Regions from separate parts of the Homo sapiens genome. Here region 2 is linked to region 1. The links come from fine-mapping of genetic effects on gene expression. Tissue or cell type: whole blood. Region 1 holds a variant in brackets; the other region holds the start of a gene. All regions are shown on one strand. Distances are between the middles of the regions.

Region 1 (4,163 bases):
ATGAAGAACATGAAGTGCCACTCAGTCAATAACAATTATCATCAGTAAACAATAGTGCCTTATTATACCACTGAGCTAAATGCTATAACGATTTTTCAAGTTGTCAGTAGTATAATCTTTACCTGTTTGAAGACTATAATTTAGTCCTCTGCCTACCACCTTTCCAGCCTCATTTCCCATAACTCATACCCTTGCAAACCTCTTCCATAACCAAATGTGCTTTTATACTTGCCAATATCTCTACCTGGAATGCATTCTCTCCAAATGTCCACCTGGTGGGCATCTAACTCATTTTCAGGCCATGGCCAAACAATTTCTTCCACAAGATCATCCTTGCCATACTCCTTCCTCAGATGATACTTGATTTCATACTAATCACACTGTATTTCAATTGAGAGTGAATCCATACTTTTAGTCATTTCTGTTTTTCAAATAAACAGAATGACTGGCACACAGTGGGGAGGAGAGATGTAATACTTCTAGTGGATGTTTCTGGGACTCTCTAACTCACCAAAGTTGAGGTAACAATCAACACCAGGACCTCCAAACAGTATAATCAGATGCCAGGCCAGCATTTGTGAGAGATCTATTTATGAATGCCAGAACTCTTAACCTTTTTTTTTTCTGGTGCAGCTGAAATCACCAGCAAATGTTAATAAGGTGCATACCACCAAAGATGTCTACATGTAGAGTAACCAACAGTCTCCAACCTAACTCTTGATGAGAGTCAACACTTTTTTTTTTTTTTGAGACGTAGTTTCACTCTGTTGCCCAAGCTGGAGTGCAGTGGCGCGATCTCGGCTCACTGCAACCTCCGCCTCCCAGGCTCAAGCAATTATCCTGCCTCAGCCTCCTGAGTAGCTGGGATTACAGGCATGTGCCACCAAGCCTAATTTTTTTTTATTTTATTTTACTAGAGACGGGGTTTCACCATATTGCCCAGGGTGGTTTCGGACTCCTGAGCTCAGGCAATCTGCCCGCCTCGGCCTCCCAAAGTGCTAGGATTATAGGCATGAGCCACCGCAACCGGCCAACACCTTTTTTAATAGTGAAGCAAAGGGTTTAAGAACTGCAGCTTTTACAACAGAATGACTTTATCAAAGTATTTACAGTGAAAGGGGCCTAGGACTAGGAAAACAAACAGCTAAGAAAACCAAGGTATGAGAAGGGAAAGTCTAAAAAGCAATATTCCACAATGCAAAGAAGAAAAAAATTAAGTCAACAGTTCTTAATCCCATGTAATAAATGAGAAACTAGTGTATGCTTACCAGATCCATGGACTGCTTGCTAAGTTGAAGACTATAGTGCAGAACATATAAACAACTATTTTTTTTAATTATCCTGCATTCATGTCTAAGGAAGACTTCATTTTTGACAGCCTCATTTGAAAAAAAAAAAAATAATTAAATCTTGTTCCAGAGGCATTTGTTCTTCACTGGAACTCCCACAAGGAACCCAAACTCCAAAGTGATTTAACAGAAATTGCTCACTTGACATCCATTCTGTGCTAAATTTAGTTTCTATGCATACTTCCCCTCTCTTATCTGTTTATAAGGATTTAGTTAAAAAGAAAAACTTGATCATTCATTCACCATATTTCTTCTTTGGTCACACAAGAACTTTCTGTATTCCAAGTTTCAAAGTCTGGGAAATAGGGCTACATCACTGGAGAAAACAGTGGCAATTTGTTCTAAATACAAAATAGCTTATTTTCCTTTGGCAACTTTCCAGGGGTCTGGGTAGAGGGAAGGGATACTCCTCTCTAGAGAGATCAGGCTCTGAACCTGGACTACTGTCAAAACTTAGCCATCGATGGGAGAGAATATTTTTTAATTATCTTTCACATCAATTTGGAAACTGATTAAAGATTTTTGCCTTATTAACAGTTTTTCTACTCTTTGGCCTTTTGTTGGTGTTCATCTCTATTCTGGCAGCCCCCATTGGCTGATTTAATGGTACCAAGGGGCTGAGAAGTGTTGCTGTCCAAAAGAAAAAGCATTCTCTCACAGGGACTGGGAAGGCAATCTGCAATCACAACAGTAGCTACTTGTTAACTTTCTATTTGAAACACAGTGATGTCAATAGTATTGTACCCTGCCAGCCACCATGGGGTAAAGTACATTTTGAAACCAAAACAAACTTCCTACGTGCTGGCAAGTGAGATCTGAGACGCAGTGATAATGTTCTACAAG[A/T]CACTGACCTAATTTTATGTACAAAATGCAAGAATTAAGTCTTCTCTTCTACAAAAGTTTAAGTCTAACTCTCACAGCTCTATTCCCACCCAGAGCCCAGTGTAACTGCTTTATTGTATCAAATTATTGTCCAGGATGGAAGAGGGAAATGACGAAATACTGTTACTGATCTCTAATTAAAATGGTGATCTTACATAGCACAAAACAGCACATTTAAAGAATGCTTTGTAATATAGCTGTTCATCTAGAAGCAGAAAATGAAAATAGCAAAGCACCTTTAAAAGTGGCCCTACTAATAAGATGTGAGTTGTATAATAGCTCATTTTAAGGGGAATATTCATATAGGAGGAAAGACATTTTATTAAATGGAACAGGAACAATCTGGCCCAAGAATTAATTCATCCCTGGAAGGCGAATATTCATAATTTGTACTGAATATGAGCAACCTGAAATAGAGAGCTAAACGATTAAAAGTGGTAACCATGCTTACTACTGGCAGATGGCAAATGGTTTGGCATTGCTGGACATCTGCCAATCCAGTCAAGCCAGCCAGGAATTATTTTTAAAGTCCCATTTTAGAACAATTTTCCCAAAATCAAAATGCAGTTTGTTTTTTGGTGAGGAGGAGATAAAATTTGCAGTAGAAAAAGGGTAACAAAGAGGAATTGTTGGCCAGTGTGTATGTGTGTATGTGTTGTTGTTGTTGTTAATAACTGAAGCATTTACAGGCCATTTGCAACCTCTGGAAAAATAAAATTTACAGAATTTAAAATACGCCATAGTCCCTGATAATAATAGAGAATCAATGTTTTGGTATGTCTTTTTATTTCTAAATTACTTAACTGTTTTGACCTCTCTTTCATTATACTGTATCACTTTTTTTTTTTCCTGACCACAAAGGGCCCAACTGAAGAGTAGTTTTTGAGAGTAACTTTTGGAGGCAGCCTAGCATAACACAACACCTGGCACCAATCCTGGGCATGCCCTCCTCTGATAAGGCAGAAATTTTCTCAGTGTTATATATAGTAGGGCACTTACAGATTAGCACTTTTAGGTAGATAGAAAGTGAACATGCCTTAAGAACTACTTTATTTTTTAAAACCCTTCTGAAAAGGGAAAGGTGTTTGATAGATTAACAACAATTACAATTATCTCCTCTTTATCAAGTAAAAGACTGGGTTCAAGTTATATCTGGGTTGCAACATTACACTGTGTGACTTGCTTCTATTTATATTTGTCTAAATCTTAGTTTGACTCTCCTCTAGAAAAGCCCAGGAAAAGATTAAATGAGAGAGGAATCAAAGCTCTAGTATTTATTTTATATGATTCCAGCCTCAGCTCAATACCATTACAGTTTTCTAAGGACTGCTACACAAGTGCTATTATTTTCATTTCATCAATAGCTCAGGAGAACAGCCCTGAAAAATCTATACAGTTCCAGGGATTTGAGAAAAGAAGGAAGAGACAGGTGGAGGGGAACATGTTTTATTTTGTTACCATTGCCAGTCAATATTTTAGTTGTTCATCAGGCAGGTTGTGTGGCTCTCTCGCCTAAGTATATTCCAACAGCAAGAACATATTGACCACTACTCCAACTAAAGAAGCCAGTAGAGTATGGAGGTTAAATTTTCCAATCTTGGCTACATTTCCTTTCAGATACTGCAGGATGAAAGTTCTAAAACATCTTTCAGGATCACCAACAACTGTTATCTCACAGAACAAAAGGCATATGAAGGACACTTTGACATTTTGGAAAATAAGACCCAACATATATTCTGTATTGTCTTCTAAGAATATCAATATTTCTTGAACATTGCAAATCAGCCAAACCCATGCTCCCTCATTCATCTGACCCAATATATGCTAGCAGTAAATTCCAGCTGTTTTCAAGGACATTCTAAGGGCCCCATCACCAAATTGCTTCTTTAAGAAAAATTCTTTTCCATTATAAAAATAGCAGTCTTGAAAAGT
Region 2 (4,163 bases), 63 kb after region 1:
TAAACATCCCGGTTTCCCCCTATCTGTCGGTCTGTCTGCCTAGTTCCCTTCCTCCTTTTCACAGCTATTATTCTGAGGACGGTGCTGGATACGCTGCACACGCGTGCCCCCGTTAGGGCGCTGAGTCGACTGCCTGGGGAAAGCTGGGTGACCTGGCTGGTAGGGGCAAAAATGAAACAAATAAATACAAAAAAGAAGCCAGGCCAGGGTGGGGTTCCCAGCACACCCCCACCCACGCACTACTATCCACGTGAATCTGGGGGTGGGCGGGTGGGGGGAGTAGAAATCGACCAGGAAGGCGTTTGCCTTGCTTGCCCTGTGCGCTCACTCAAGAGCCGTCTCCCGGAAAATAAAGAAAAAGCACAGAACAGCCCACACCTTCTTCCCCAACTATTGTTTCTCAAAGATCCCAAAGTTTCCTTCTAGCCGCGTCCCCACGGCCAAGTTTCCCGGGCTCAGGACGGCGTGTCCGGGGCGAGCTGCTGGCGTTGCTTGGCCCCGCCGGCCTCCTTCTTTGGGGGGGGGGGGGCGGCGGTGGCACCCCACGGCAACGGACGTGCAGGGGGACTGTGTCCGTAGACGTGATGGCCTGAGCCCAGTCCTGCTGCTAGAGGGAAGGAAAAAGGCGAAGTAGGAGGGAGAGAGAGAGACAGAGCCGAGCCCACGCCGTGGAGAGCTGTTTGGTTGTTATTGTTGTAGTGTGTGTCTGTGTGTTTTCTTTCTGGAACCTCTGAGCTCTGCCTATGGTTTCCAACTTTCGGCTTCTAATCCCCACCCCACCCAGGAACGAGCAACAGAAAAACAACACTTGTCTGCCTGAGAAGGCTCCGGAAAAAAAAAAAAAAAAAAGGAAGAAAAGCGACCTCAAAGAGATGAGCTCTCGGCTCAGTTGTCAGCAAACAACAACACTCCCCCGCTCCTCCGCTGGGCCATCCTCCCAGCCCCAGCCCGCCGGAGAGGACAGACCGACGCACCGACAGGCCCCTCTCCCCCTCGCCCGTCTTTGTTACATCTTTAGCAGCTTTGTGCGTGCGTGTCCTTTCTCCGGTGTCATCGGCTTTACTGCCAAGGGCTGGATGTGTATGTTGGGCGGGGGGGGGACGGGCCGAGCTCGCAACAGGGGTCGCCCAAGTGGGCGAGAAAGAAAGAACCGGGCGCCGAGGAAGAGCAGGGGCCCCCAAACTTACTTTTGTTTTCTTTCTCGATCTGCTCCAGGTAGCTGGCGGCCTCGAGCAGAATCTGCACGTTCTGCAGAAAAGTGTTGATGTGCTTCTCCATCGAGTTCTCGCTGGTGTTGAAAATGTCTGAGAAGGGGCACCTGGGCTTGGCCCCAGCGGGGTCCTCGGGCAGGGCCGGGGGCTGGGGCGCGGCCACGGCGGGGGGCACAGCCGGGGGCGCGGCGGGGGCCAGCCCCGCGCCCTCGCAGCGCGCCTCCTTGCGCGGCCGCCCGCGTTTGCCCATGGAGGAGCGGGGGTCCGCCGAGCTCGTCCTCTAACGGGGCTGCGCGGCCCGGCCGAGCTCCGGGCCCCCAGGGAGACCCGGCCGGCTGGAGCAGAGAAGGCGCCGGGGCGAAAAGCCGGCCTGACTTCCCGAGCCTCGCTGCCTGCAGTTGTGTGTGTGAGTGTATGGGAGTGTGTGTCGGTCTCGCTGTGAGTCTGTGTGTATGGGAGATTGAATGAACCTACAGGACAGACGGAGGCACTCTGGCGCCTGGGTCCTAGTGCGAGCCTGTCGCCATCGGACCGGTCAAAATAAAAGGTGGAGACTAGCGAGCGAGGCAGGGACCGCCCCTGCCCGTCCCCGCAGGCTTCCCTGCCTCTCCCCAAGGCTTACCACAGAGTAGAACACTGTCTTTTAACCGGAATGGAAAAAAATACCTGATGTCTCTGGGTGCACCTGCATAAAAACAAACTACTTTTTTCACAGAAAAATAATGCCTCAGAAAGTGTCCAGCACAATGCCTGGCACATAGTTAGGTCCCCATACATGGTGGCTGCTATGACTTAAAAATAAATAAATAAAAGCTCCCCAATCCAAATGGGAAGAAGGGAACCAGTGTGTAACCAGAAGATCCCCCCACCCCCAACACAAACACTCCTACTCACAGACACACATACATACGTAATCACGCACACACTTGCGAGGCACCTGTGTGTGCCTTCACACAGTCAAATGAAATCCCAGGCCGTCCAAATCCGAGTTACAGATTTACTCATGCCTTTCTCCCTTCAAATGCAAAGTTATTTTCCAGAAGTGGGAGGAGATGTCAGCATCCCTCTCCACACTCCTCTGCCCAGCCTTGGTTCAGCTGTGCAAAGCTCACACCAGGATGCCTCCACACCTGGCTCCCTTTAATTTGAGAGGCAGAAGTGGCAGCTCAGGAACCACCCCCCTCCCCAGCTGAATTCCACCTTTTGCCTCTGAAAACCCCTACCCCAGCTGACATTGTTTCACTGCCACTGCTGTCCGCAATCATGGATGCTTTCCAGCCCTGGGAAGTACTGGAGGTGTCAGGGGATGATTGAAGGCTGCTCTAGGGTGCCATAGGAAAGGGTTCAAATCCCAGCTCTGCTGCATACAGACTGTGTGAGCTTGGACAAGTCCCTTAACCTCTCTTGGCCTAAGTTTCCACATCATTGAAATGTGTGATAAGATGCTTGTGTATTGTATCTGACTTAGCACACTCTGGCCCATGGTAAGCTCTTTTTCTTCCAATCCAGACCCAGGCAAGAGCCTGAGTCCCCTATTCTGATGTAACTTGTATCTAAGAAAGGAACAAGATGTAGTGAACAAGACTCTTCTGCACTTCCTTGGAAAATATCTCTATGACAAGCCCATCTAAATATGGTTACTTTGCAAGGTCACCTGGAGTTTTCCTCCAGGGGAACCATTTATATAGAGGACAAAGACAATGCTGCCCCCTGGAGGTGTGCGATGCAGCCACCCTACTCAAAGGCAGCTTCATACACATTGTCATAAAAACTCTTGATGGCCGGACGCAGTGGCTCACGCCTGTAATCCCAGCACTTTGGGAGGCCAAAGCGGGCAGATCACCTGAGGTTGGGAGTTCGCGACCAGCCTGACCAACATAGAGAAACGCTGTCTCTACCAAAAATACAAAATTAGCCGGGCGTGGTGGCGCATGCCTGTAATCCCAGCTACTCCGGAGGCTGAGGCAGGAGAATGGCGTGAACCCGGGAGGCGGAGCTTGTAGTGAGCCGAGATAGCGCCACTGCACTCCAGCCTGGGCGACAGAGCCAGACTCCGTCTCAAAAAAAAAAAAAAAAAAAGTTTATCTTCCATTATTAGAACAATTACTGATTTTTTGCTTCTGTGAGAACCACAACCTGAGTTATTCGTGTTGAAATGCCTGTAAACATCTAAAAATGTTAGGAAGACCTCATGTATGCACAGTTTCAAACAAGCTTTCTCCAATGCCATTTTGCAAAAACTGGCCCTTGTGTGAAACAGCTCTGATCTCTCTTGCCCCAAATGAAAGATGGTACTGAGACAATGAACCAGCTAAGCCCAGAGAAAACCTTGCTTTCTCTTTAATTGCCCATTGGTGGCATGGGTCAGATGTATAGTACTGCAACATACATGCACCACCAAGACAGGCACACGCATGCATGAGTGCCATGGTGGGGGAAGGGTGTTTTGTAATTATTTATTTATCCCTGTTCCATCTCTCATAGGTCTGCGAGTTTCAGAAAGCCCAGTGGGAATCTTCAAGCTGGGCCACGGATCTGACCAAAGCCAAAATAAACAATGGCTTGAAGAAAATCTACAAAAAAGTGCTGATTTGCACTATTCCCACAGTCGGCCACAGCCCCCACCATCATTCCCATGGAAAACACCACGGCTGGTGCCAAATCAAGTTTTCCCCCCATCATAGGGGCATTGTTTTTTGTTATTATGTGAGTTCTTAGCATCAGACAATGGCACCACAAGAGACACAGTGGAAGCAGGAGAAATGCCTTTTTGTTTCACAAAGTCTGTGTTACTGTGCCCCCAGAGTCTCGCATATAGTTTAGTTGCATATATTCATTTTGGTAACACGTATGTGGAACGACGAATGTGCCAAGCTAAAGCCCGAAGCCCCCTCCTTATTTGTTTTCAGAGCCCATCAAGTGTTAAATCATATTAACATCCCATTGCTCTCT

The links. PIP is the estimated chance that this variant, and not a neighbour inherited with it, causes the effect.
Region 2: it holds the start of MXI1, and the variant in region 1 is fine-mapped to the expression of MXI1 in whole blood (TOPMed, PIP above 0.99).

The regions. Positions count from the first base shown.
Region 1 is chr10:110,267,677-110,271,839 of GRCh38, reverse strand. The region is part of intron 3 of MXI1 (MAX interactor 1, dimerization protein); the gene reads right to left. Among named protein-coding and RNA genes, the nearest start is that of SMNDC1, 35 kb to the left of the region's middle. The variant A/T (reference allele first, on the strand shown) is at 2,193.
Region 2 is chr10:110,205,107-110,209,269 of GRCh38, reverse strand. MXI1 (MAX interactor 1, dimerization protein) reads right to left here and starts at 1,665. Exons shown (of 6, transcript NM_130439.3): 1 at 1,188-1,665. The coding sequence starts at 1,461. RefSeq lists a silencer at 1,415-1,494 and an enhancer at 3,084-3,584.